Linked DNA regions of Homo sapiens. The protein of the gene in region 3 purifies or fractionates together with the protein of the main gene of each other region. This does not show direct contact. Each region holds a gene or a part of one and is shown on either strand. Other genes may lie near its edges.

Region 1 (3,500 bases), on a different chromosome or scaffold from region 3:
ATGTAGGTAGCTTCAATAGTTTAGAAAATTCATTTGCATTATTCAATCAAGAAGGACAAATAAAATGACATACTTTTATTTTTATCTTTTTAAATGGCAAACACACAGAACTGGCAGTCAACCGAGGGCAGAAGATAAGGGTAACTCCACTAAAAGACACCATAAACCAGGAAAGTGGAAAGAGTCAGTGTGAGTGACACAGGTCAGACCTACCAGGTGCTACCTGATATTTATTTAAATGTCAAAAGAATCAGAAGAGGAGATTGAATGCTCCTCACTACCAGTGTGCAACTGAGGGGCGGGGCTGACTGCGCTGTGAATACCAATTCTGTATTTCCCGACCAGGAAGCCGAGCACCTGCACATGCGTTAGGCATGTAGTTTCCTTGTTTCAGTAGCATATAAAATAGCCCAAACTCTCAAAAGGATTAAGAAGTCTGCAAGATTCCCAGGATAAAGCTGCACAATTACAGTTTATGCAACTTTCATCCAACAACTGCATAACTGAGGGGAGGAAGCACTGCTCTCCTGCTCTCCTGCCAACGTCTCACCATCCAGTCAGAAAACCTCAGAAATGGCTTTGTATCGATTGACATTTTCCCCTCTGCAGATATAGCCTCTATCTGCAGAGACCTTTTGCATTAAAAAAAAATACAAAAAACTACAAACCAAGCTGGAGTTGAGCCTTTAAATAAGTATGATAAAACTGACATTTAAAATTATACAATAAATTAGCTCAAGTTAGAATTATAAACTCAGGACCAGGGAAAGGAATAATTATATATCAGAACTAAAACGATATAACCAACCAGGTGCAGTGGCTCACACCTGTAGTCCCAGCACGCTGGGAGGCTAAGGCAGGACGATCACTTGAGCCCAGAAGGTCAAGTCTGCAGTGAGCTGAGACTGTTCCTCTGTGCTCCAGCCTGGGCAACAGAGTGAGATCCTGTCTCAAAATAAAAATAAAAATAATGATACAGCTGATATTTAGGCAGTAGCAAATTTTACAACACTATTTGCTACTGTAATCTTAGTAGAGTAAAATTTTAATCTTCACTCTTCCCAAGCTATGTACAATTGCATCTTCCTGTTTGATTTCCTGGACGATACATGAGTTGCAATATGAATCATCCTCATCAACTAAGTGAATGAGTTACAGTCGTTATCAGCATACCCACTGGCGAAAATCTTTATTATCTACAATGCTGAAAAAGCAAAAGTTCCATGAAATGGGTCATTTCTAATAAATCATAAAACAGAACCTACCTTAGAACTTAATAGTCACTTACAAATGTATCCACATTTTACAAAAGAGGAAACTGAGTCTGAAGGGAAATGGGTAGGTGACTTGTCTGAGCGAGTAATGGCCAGAGTGAGATTTTCTGTGATCTAAGATAGTCCACCCTAGAGGAAACTTTAAAATAAGTGTGCACCGTGATTGGAAAGCTAGCTGATAAACCATTCTTTTCCTCACTCCCTGGACTTTTGCTTCCTTCTCCCTTTCCTACGTAGGCCCAGTCTGCATGTCCTTCCCGTCTCCACTCCAGCTCTTCTCTGCAATCTGACAATAGATCCGAGAATCCTTCTGTTCTGCATACTGACTCCCTCTTCTCCCCAGGCAAGGCTAATAGATACAGAACCCTCGCTGGAAGACAGAAAACGAAGGCACGAGGCACTCAGCGGTCTCACAGGGTCACCCAGCAAAGGAGTGGCTTAACTAGAAATAGAAAGCAGATGCTCCCGGCATCCATTAGATTAAAGCAGATTACAGAGGCTTATCCCAGCCTCAGCAAATGCTTCAGATGAAATCATGCATGCAGTCTGGCATCAAAGGAAAATTAGAAGATTCTACCTGTAAAAGTGAAAGCGTAAAAGGCTGCCACATCATCCGAAAGTTACAGGTCACTGAGTTTTATTAATTTGCTCTGCAACAGCACCTTCTGTGATCTCTAGTTTTTCTCTACAGTCTAATGAAAGAAGAAATGCTATTTCAGGGACTGGGTATGAAGTGAGCATGTACCCTCTCTTCAAAAGGACTGAGGGCCAAGGAAGCCTGTATTCTGTTCCATAGCACGCTGGGGTGGAGAAGAACCCCAGTCAGAAGGGATACGGGCGACAGCCAAGAAAGTTCCATGTGAGAGAAAGAACGGAGGAAGCGGAAGAGCCACGGCTGCTGGAGAGGGAAGGGAGGCCCAGCCTCTCCCTGCACACAATCCCCAATCCACTCAGCTCTGCCACGGCCTCTCACCTCAACCAAACCCAGCCCTCACTTTTGGGCTCCTGGCCCTAAATGAAAAGCATCATCAATACTTCAGAGTAGTGGGGATTCCAGCTCCCACTGCTATCCAGGCTGGCTGTACAAGTTAAGAGCTTCCCAGCAATGCCCTGATACGCATGACATTCCTAGAAGACCAAAGCAGAGATGTGCTGTTCCTGGCATATCAAGGTAGAAACACATCCAACCTCCCAGGAAAGAACCATCAACAGAGACTAGATATTACAGCATCAGCAGCATCATCACGCTTCTTATGTAAACTATGTAATAAGTAGGTTTCTAATTCATGATACTGTTCTACAGACAAACTGGGGAGTTGGTTCTATTAGGTTAAATTGCTTCTTTCCAATGCAAGATCGCCACCTAGTGGCTGAAGACAACAACCGCATGCACAAATGATTTCACATACTGGGAAGGGGCTAGGGAGGTGGTGATGAAGGAATAGGAATTCTCACCCAGGTCTCAAACGGCTTTTTACCCGACTTGGCAATGACTATGGAATGCCTACGCTGTGAAATGGAGAAATTACGTGGAATAAAGGGTCAACCAGGGAGTGTGCTTTATCACACTGGAGGTATCAATATAGAGCATAATTCTCTAACCTGGCGTATTAAAAGCTATTTAACACCAACTTTCAGCTGTGAAAAAACACCATGCAGCTAAAAATGTTGGGCAAGAAATTAAAATTATTTTCTGACCTAGCTACATAAAGTCCCGTTTTCCTCTAAATATAAGCTGATTCCATTTTTTAGCTCAGCCACAGGACTTGTTTACAGTCTAAAACCTAATCTGGGTCCCATCTCAGATCTCCTAGATCTGAATTCTAACAAGATCCTCAGGCACACCACAGTCAATGCGAAGACTCCAGCGCTGTTTCACAGCAATGCAGTCGGAGCTGTCCATAAAGCATGAAGTCGCTATTGGCCCAGAGCTAAAATGCTTCAAGCAACTCAGGACAAACACGTAGATTTCAATAACAAGTAAAGAAATGCTTAATCTTACCTTTTGTGAATTTCATATAGTGAACACGGTTTTTGGAGATTTTGGACTTTTCCTCAAGGCTAAAAGATTTCTTTTCCTTCTTGTCCGAGGAATCTTTAAAAAAGATGAAAAAAATACATTAAAGTCTTTCTAATCCAATCTCATTTATTCTCCTAACAGTGGATAGTCTTGAAAGAAAATTTTAGGAGCCCTATCATTAATGATTGAACTCTTTCATTCATTTG
Region 2 (3,853 bases), on a different chromosome or scaffold from region 3:
TGTTTACTAACTAGTTGCTGTTACATTTTAAATGTAATGTTGAACATTTGTGTTAACAGCTTAACTGTCAGGGGCAGGTTTGATGGTGTAGGTGGTATTTCTTTGAACAGTTTGCAGATATTCTGCTTTTGTATAATTACCCCATGCAGTAATTTGATTTGCATTTCTTGACTGCAGAGAGAAAATATCTTATATCTACACTAATAAAATTTTGTTTTTGGCTTTGTTTTTCTAGATGTTGGAGAAGAGCATCAGTCTCCAGGTGGCATTAGGTAAAAAAAACATTAATATTTCATTTTTAAACCTTTGGGGACATAGCATAGTCACAGTAAATGATTCAGAAGTTGCTTCCATTTGAAATTATTTTGAGCTGTAAGAGAAATTAACTTCAGTTTTGATACTGCATTTAGATTCCATGTTGAGCTTGATTAGAACTTAAACCATGTAATCTACTTACATAGCTTAGAAATCATGTCTTGAGTATCTTCTGTGTTTGGACTTATTCCATGGTAGGCACTAATGTGAAATATGGGTGTTTTGGCCAAGGTTTTGAGATTTTATTGGAATCTTTTGTGTTGTGATTTATCTGTTAGTAGGTCTTTTAATATAGCAGATCACCAGACAGTATTACAAAGTCAGTTGTTTCTTAACTTTTAATGCCATTGAGTTGTCATCACCCTGTCTTTATCTAGGATTTATGTCTTTTTAGTTTCAATTATTATTCTTTGTGATAAAACAGCTAGATTTCAGTCCAATTAGGTCATTAGGATGAAAATGCTAGATGACTTTATCAGTGTTTGGCTACCTCTTAAAAAATTACCAAATAAAATCCCCTCAGACATGTTCGCTACAACCAGAATGTCTCATTTCTATTTACTTATTTTTAGTAGTGAAGAGGAAGAGGAGGAGGAAGAAGAGATGTTAATCAGTGAAGAGGAGATACCATTCAAAGATGATCCAAGAGATGAGACCTACAAACCCCACTTAGAAAGGCATGTCTCAGATTTTACTGCAGACATGTTAATGAAATATAAGTAGGAAAGCACTGTTGCATGCTTTTATTTTATCTGTTGCCAAGCTAATGGGTATAGAATTAATTTTAAATGAGTAATTAATTATGCACTTCTTTTGTAAGTCTAACACCTTAATATACCCTGATAATAATCCTCTTTCCCATTTGTAGAACTTTATTTTGATTATATACAAGTTTTTATGAGTCTGCATGTTTTATTTCAACAAGGTATCATGAATTGCCTGAATACTTAGAATTTTTTAACTAATTGTCTCGTTTCTCTTTACAATTATAGTGAAATTTGATTTACAGGCATCTTTAGTCTGGGGAGGGTTCATTCCATGAGCAACATATACATATATTTGGATCATTACTATGCATGTGAGGATGATTGGTAGGAAATCACATTTCATGAACTGAGGAAGGTAGTTTTATAACAAATCAGTGATAACTCTAAGCTTTAATTTGTTGTCATAGTCTTCCTTGAAAAGATCTTTTGTCTAGTATTGAAATGCATTTGTGTTTTCAGGGAAACCCCAAAGCCACGGAGAAAATCAGGGAAGGTAAAAGAAGAGAAGGAGAAGAAGGAAATTAAAGTGGAAGTAGAGGTGGAGGTGAAAGAAGAGGAGAATGAAATTAGAGAGGATGAGGAACCTCCAAGGAAGTGAGTAGGCAATTATTAAAAATGAAAATCTAACAGATTTTGAACGACTAGTGGAAAAAAGAGTGGGAGTGTGAGGAAGGATGTTGACGTATACATGCTTCAAAATATGTATTTTTTAACTTAAAAAAATTTGGCCTCAAGCAGCTGACAATTTCACTGGAGAGACTCTTAGTAAAAAAATGTTTAGGTTTTTCAGTTCTATTGCAAGGAGAAGGTATTTTTTAATCTTAGTGTTTTTAGATGATACATGGTAGCAACTCTAAAAGTAATACATTGAGATTCTTCTAAGTCTTTCATAGTATTGCATAGTTTATGGAAGGTATATATTTAATCTGTCTTACAGACTGATTTGAAAGTGAAATTACTTCAGGGTAAAATTACTTGCTTGATTTGCCAGATATATCTTTGACTTTATGTATTCTTGGTTATCCTTTGCCACTTGTTCTTTGGCCGTGTGTGTGTGTGTGTGTCTTCAGCCAGCCTTCACTGTGTAGTTTTGATTCAGAATATGTCTACTGTTACCCTGTCTTCAATTACAGGAGAGGAAGAAGACGAAAAGATGACAAAAGTCCACGTTTACCCAAAAGGAGGTGAGGAATTTTTACCCCTACTGTTTTACACCTTATTCCAGTACCAGGCACTTTACTCACAAATTTAGACTTCATGATAATCCTGCAGGAATGGCTATTTAAAAATTTCACAAAAGCAACTTCACTAATGTCCTAGATGCACAGGTGTTATGATCTTATTTTCATTGTAAGAGCTTGAAATTTCTAACAATCTTAATACTTTACCTTTGGGGGGTCATTAGTTTATTTGTGTTACTTTTTAATTCTGTCAAATATTTGCTAATTCTTGGTTACTTCTAATACAAATTCTGTGTAATCTGTATAGTAGTAAAGAGATTTTAATTCTTCCTACTATAAAATAGCTATTCCCAATAGCACAGTTTAAGTCAGAGGCCACTGTGCAGAGTACCACTTTTTTTTTTTTGCTAACTTTTCTTCTGCATTTTGATAATAGAAAAAAGCCTCCAATCCAGTATGTCCGTTGTGAGATGGAAGGATGTGGAACTGTCCTTGCCCATCCTCGCTATTTGCAGGTCAGTGAAGTTGTTATATAAGAGCCTTTCAGGTTGTGTTCCATTACTTGTTCTTGCACCACGAGACTTTAATTTGTTGGCTTGTGTAGGCTTTATCATTGACATGTAATGTCAAGAAAAGTCTTTCTTTAAACATAAAATGACTTTAACCCATTTATGCCTAGTGTTCCATTATTAGAATGCTAAGCTTGGGCAAGTTATTTATATCCTACTGTTCAAGGTCATCACCAAGGTCTGATTTTTCACAAAAATACATTTGCAACCTCCAGCATAAATGGGTTAATCATGATTAGTCCATTTGTGCTGCTATAATAGAGTACCTGAGACTGGGTAATTTACAAAGAACATATATTTATTTATTAGCTTGTGGTTCTGGAGACTGGAAAGTCCAAAAGCATGGTGCCCACATCTCACAAGAGCCTTTTAACTGTGTCAGCCCATGGTGGAAGGGCAAGAATGGGTTGAACTTGCTTTTGTAACAAATCTACTCCAATGATAATATCAACCCATTTATATAAGGGTAGAGCCTTTAAGACCTAAGCACCTCCCATTAGGTCCCGCCTTCCAACACTATCACATTGGGGATTAAGTTTCCAACACATGAACTGTGGTGAACACATCCAAATTCATAGCACCTCCTGTTTAAAAAGAGGTGACTAAGAATCTGAACCCACATAGAGAACTTTCGTTGGAATCTTTCAATATTACAGTAATTCCCAATGTGGTGTAAATACAGAGTAACATTTTATTTTAAAGTGATTTAGAAAAAAAGTAAAATTAGAACTCAAACCTGTGATTTCTTGGGTACTGTGTAGAATGAATAAAAGACTTTTAGTTGAGGTTTTGTTTTTATTTTTCTTGAGTAGATTATTATTATTATTTTTGATGAGTAAACGTACCACTTATATTTAGGTCTGGCAGGAAACGTGAAAGTGAAATACTGCTTAGGAAATACCTGTTTGATCTTCAGCAACAAATATAACATGACACGAAGGCCTTCTTCTGGATCGTGGTTCAGTTATAACAATAGCCGCTCCTCCTCTGCTGTGTGCCATTTGCTGCTCTAAAGCACAGT
Region 3 (3,500 bases):
TGTATACTTTAAAATGGTTAGTTTTAGTTATGTGAATTTTACCTCAATTTAAAAAACTGTAAATATGGCACTCTAGTTAAAGATATATATAGGCAGGGCGCAGTGGCTCATGCCTGTAATCCCACCACTTTGGGAGGCCGAGACGGGTGGATCACCTGAGGTCAGGAGTTTGAACCAGCCTGGCCAACGTGGTGAAACGCCATCTCTACTAAAAATACAAAAATTAGCTGGGCATGGTGGCAGACGCCTGTAATCCCAGCTACTCAGGAGGCTGAGGCAGGAGAATCGCTTGAACCCCGGAGGCAGAGGTTGCAGTGAGCTGAGACTGCGCCACTGCACTCCAGCCTGGGCGACAAGAGTGAAATTCCATCTCAAAAAAAAAAAGATATGTATGTTAAAATACTTACGGGGAGGCCAGGTACAGTGGCTCACACCTGTAATCCCAGCACTTTGGGAGCCGGAGGCAGGTGGATCACGTGAGGTGAGGACTTCCAGACTAGCCTGGCCAACATGGCAAAACTACATCTCTACTAAAAACACAAAAATTAGCCGGACATGGTGGCGCATGCCTGTAGTCCCAGCCACTCAGGTGGCTAAGACAGGAGAATCTCTTGAACCTGGAAGGTGGAGGCTGCAATGAGCTGAGATCATGCCACACTGCACTGCAGCCGGGGCGACAGAGCAAGACTCTCAAAACAAAAACAAAAACACAACACGAACAAACAAGAAAACCCACCACATCTTTGAGTGGTGTTAACAGTAAAAAAATAAGGAAAAATAAAAACCACAGGGATGCAAATCAGCAAAACAGACTGTGGGAAACTCATAAGGCAAATGAGTTTTTTTGTTGTTTTTTGAGACGGAGTCTCACACTGTTGCCCAGGCTAGAGTTCAGTGGCACGATCTCAGCTCACTGCAACCTCCGCCTCCTGGTTCAAGCGATTCTTCTTTCTCAGCCTCCCAAGTAGCTGGGACTACAGGCACGTGCCACCATGCCTTGCTAATTTTTGTATTTTTAGTAGAGACAGGGTTTCACTATGTTGGTCAGGCTGGTCTCGAACTCCTGACCTCAGGTGATCTACCATCCTCGTCCTCCCAAAGTGCTGGGATTATAGGTGTGAGCCACTGCGCCTGGCCAACAAATGAGTTTTTTCAACAGAAAATTGCAAAGAAAAAAAAAGGAACTATAGATTATAAAATGTTTAAGACGCATATCAATCAGTAGCAACGTCAAGAATTGTATTTGGATCCAGATTCAAACAAACTATTTAAAAAAGACAGCAAGGGCAATGTGCACACTAGGTATTTAATGATATTAAAGAATTACTATGCCAGGCGCAGTGGCTCACGCCTGTAACCCCAGCACTTCGAGAGACCAAGGCAGGCGGATCACTTGAGGTCATGATTTCGAAACCAGCCTGGCCAACATGGCAAAACCCAGTCTCTACTAAAAATACAAAAAATTAGCCAGGTGTGGTGGTGGGCGCCTGTAATCCCAGCTACTCAGGAGGCTGAGGCAGGAGGAATCACTTGAACCAGGGAGGTGGAGGTTGCAGCGTGCTGAGATCACACCATTGCACTGCAGACTAGGCAACAAGAGTGAAATTCCATCTCAAAAAAAATTACTGTTTTTCTTCTACTGATAATGACTGTGGTTTTAAAGAGCCCTTAGTTATCATTTTGGAAATACATACAATTACTTGAAGATAAAATGATGACTGGGATTGTTTCAAATGCAGGGGTGAAGAAAAGATCATTGTTAAAGACTGGTAATAGGTAATGGGTATATCATGTTCTTTATACTATTCAATCTTTCTATTCAATTTACTATTCAATTTTATATGTTTGAAAATGTTCTTATCAACTGTTTTTTACTATACATTTTACATTCTTACTGCAAAACTTTCAACCATTACAAAATAAAAAAGCTTCTTTTTTCTTATTCTTTTTTTTTTTTTTTTGAGACAGAGTCTCAATCTGTTGTCCAGGCTGGAGTGCAGTGGCGCAATCTCAGCTCACCGCAACTATCACCTCCTGGGTTCAAGCAATTCTCCTGCCTCAGCCTGCCGAGTAGTTGGGACTACAGGCGTGCGCAACTATGCCCAGCCAATTTTTGTATTTTTAGTAGAGAAAGGGTTTCATTATGTTGGCCAGGCTGGTCTCGAACTCCTGACCTCGTGATTCACCCGCCTCGGCCTCCCAGAGTGCTGGGATTACAGGCATGAGCTACCACGCCCGGCCCACAAAGCTTCTTTTTACCATCCAGCATGCCCCTTCCCAGAAGTAATCATTATCTGATGTTTATTCTTTCAACCTGTGTTTGTATATTTACATAAATGCCTAAGGAATCCATTTAGCACTATTTATTTTTTAAAATAGTGTAATTTTTGTATACATCATTGTATAATTTGGTTTTTATCACTGATTGTTTTTAACCACTGCATTACATTCTGCAGATACTACTATTCACTTAGTCACCTAGTCTTTCCTACATACACATATATATGCATCTATTAAATAGAAAGATGACATGTTACCTAGTTGCCTGTCATAAATACGGTAAATATTACCTTTAGTTCTTTTTTCTTTTTTTTTTTTTTGAGATGTTGTCTCACTCTGTCTCCAGACTGGAGTGCAGTGGCACGATCTTGGCTCACTGCAACCTCCGCCTCCCGGGTTCAAGCAATTCTCCTGCCTTAGCCTCCTAAGTAGCTGGGATTACAGGTGCGGGTCACCACACCCAGCTAGTTTTTGTATTTTTAATAGAGACGAGGTATCGCCATGTTGGCCAGGATGGTCTCGATCTCCTGACCTCGTGATCTGCCCGCCTCAGCCTCCCAAAGTGTTCAGAATACAGGCGTGAGCCACCGCACCCAGCCTTTTTTTTCTTTTATTTTTTTTTGAGACAGAGTCTCGCTCTGTCACCCAAGCTGGAGTGCAGTGGCGCGATCTTGGCTCACTGCAAGCTTCACCTCCCGGATTCACGCCATTCTCCTGCCTCAGCCTCCCGAGTAGCTGGAACTACAGGCGCCCGCCACCATGACCGGCTAATTTTTTGTATTTTTAGTAAAAATGGAGTTTCACCGTGTTAGCCAGGATGGTCTCGATCTCCTGACCTCATTATCCGCCTGCCTCAGCCTCCCAAAATGCTGGGATTACAGGCGTAAGCCACCACGCCCGGCCCTAATTCTTTTTTTAAACATACCATTGGTTTAACTTTCATGGAGTCAAAATTATAAACCTTTTCCTTTATGGATTCTTCTTCTGACTTCTGTGGTTTTTTTTTTTTTTTTTGAGACAGGGTCTCCCTCTGTCACCCAGGCTGGAGTACGGTGGCGCAATCTCAGCTTACTGCAACCTCCACCTCCTGGGTTCAAGTGATTCTCATGCCTCAGCCTCCCAAATAGCTGGGACTACAGGGGCCCGCCACCAGGCCGGCTAATTTTTCTATTTTTAGTAGAGACAGAGTTTCACCATATTGGCCAGGCTGGTCTCACACT

What was found.
Region 1: the proteins of DDX50 (region 3) and PINX1 purify together in Homo sapiens (co-immunoprecipitation; one large-scale study listed by IntAct). This does not show direct contact.
Region 2: the proteins of DDX50 (region 3) and ZFP91 purify together in Homo sapiens (affinity purification with mass spectrometry; one large-scale study listed by BioGRID and IntAct). This does not show direct contact.

What each region holds. Positions count from the first base shown.
Region 1 is NC_000008.11:10,822,876-10,826,375, forward strand, and holds part of PINX1 (PIN2/TERF1-interacting telomerase inhibitor 1), read right to left. Parts: intron 3,370-3,500; coding exon 3,277-3,369; intron 2,569-3,276; exon of another isoform or gene 2,498-2,568; intron 1-2,497. UniProt on the Homo sapiens protein: Microtubule-binding protein essential for faithful chromosome segregation. Mediates TRF1 and TERT accumulation in nucleolus and enhances TRF1 binding to telomeres. Inhibits telomerase activity. May inhibit cell proliferation and act as tumor suppressor.
Region 2 is NC_000011.10:58,610,063-58,613,915, forward strand, and holds part of ZFP91 (E3 ubiquitin-protein ligase ZFP91), read left to right. Parts: intron 1-235; coding exon 236-272; intron 273-887; coding exon 888-992; intron 993-1,541; coding exon 1,542-1,676; intron 1,677-2,215; coding exon 2,216-2,266; intron 2,267-2,699; coding exon 2,700-2,778; intron 2,779-3,853. UniProt on the Homo sapiens protein: Atypical E3 ubiquitin-protein ligase that mediates 'Lys-63'-linked ubiquitination of MAP3K14/NIK, leading to stabilize and activate MAP3K14/NIK. It thereby acts as an activator of the non-canonical NF-kappa-B2/NFKB2 pathway.
Region 3 is NC_000010.11:68,914,815-68,918,314, reverse strand, and holds part of DDX50 (ATP-dependent RNA helicase DDX50), read right to left. Parts: intron 1-3,500. UniProt on the Homo sapiens protein: ATP-dependent RNA helicase that may play a role in various aspects of RNA metabolism including pre-mRNA splicing or ribosomal RNA production.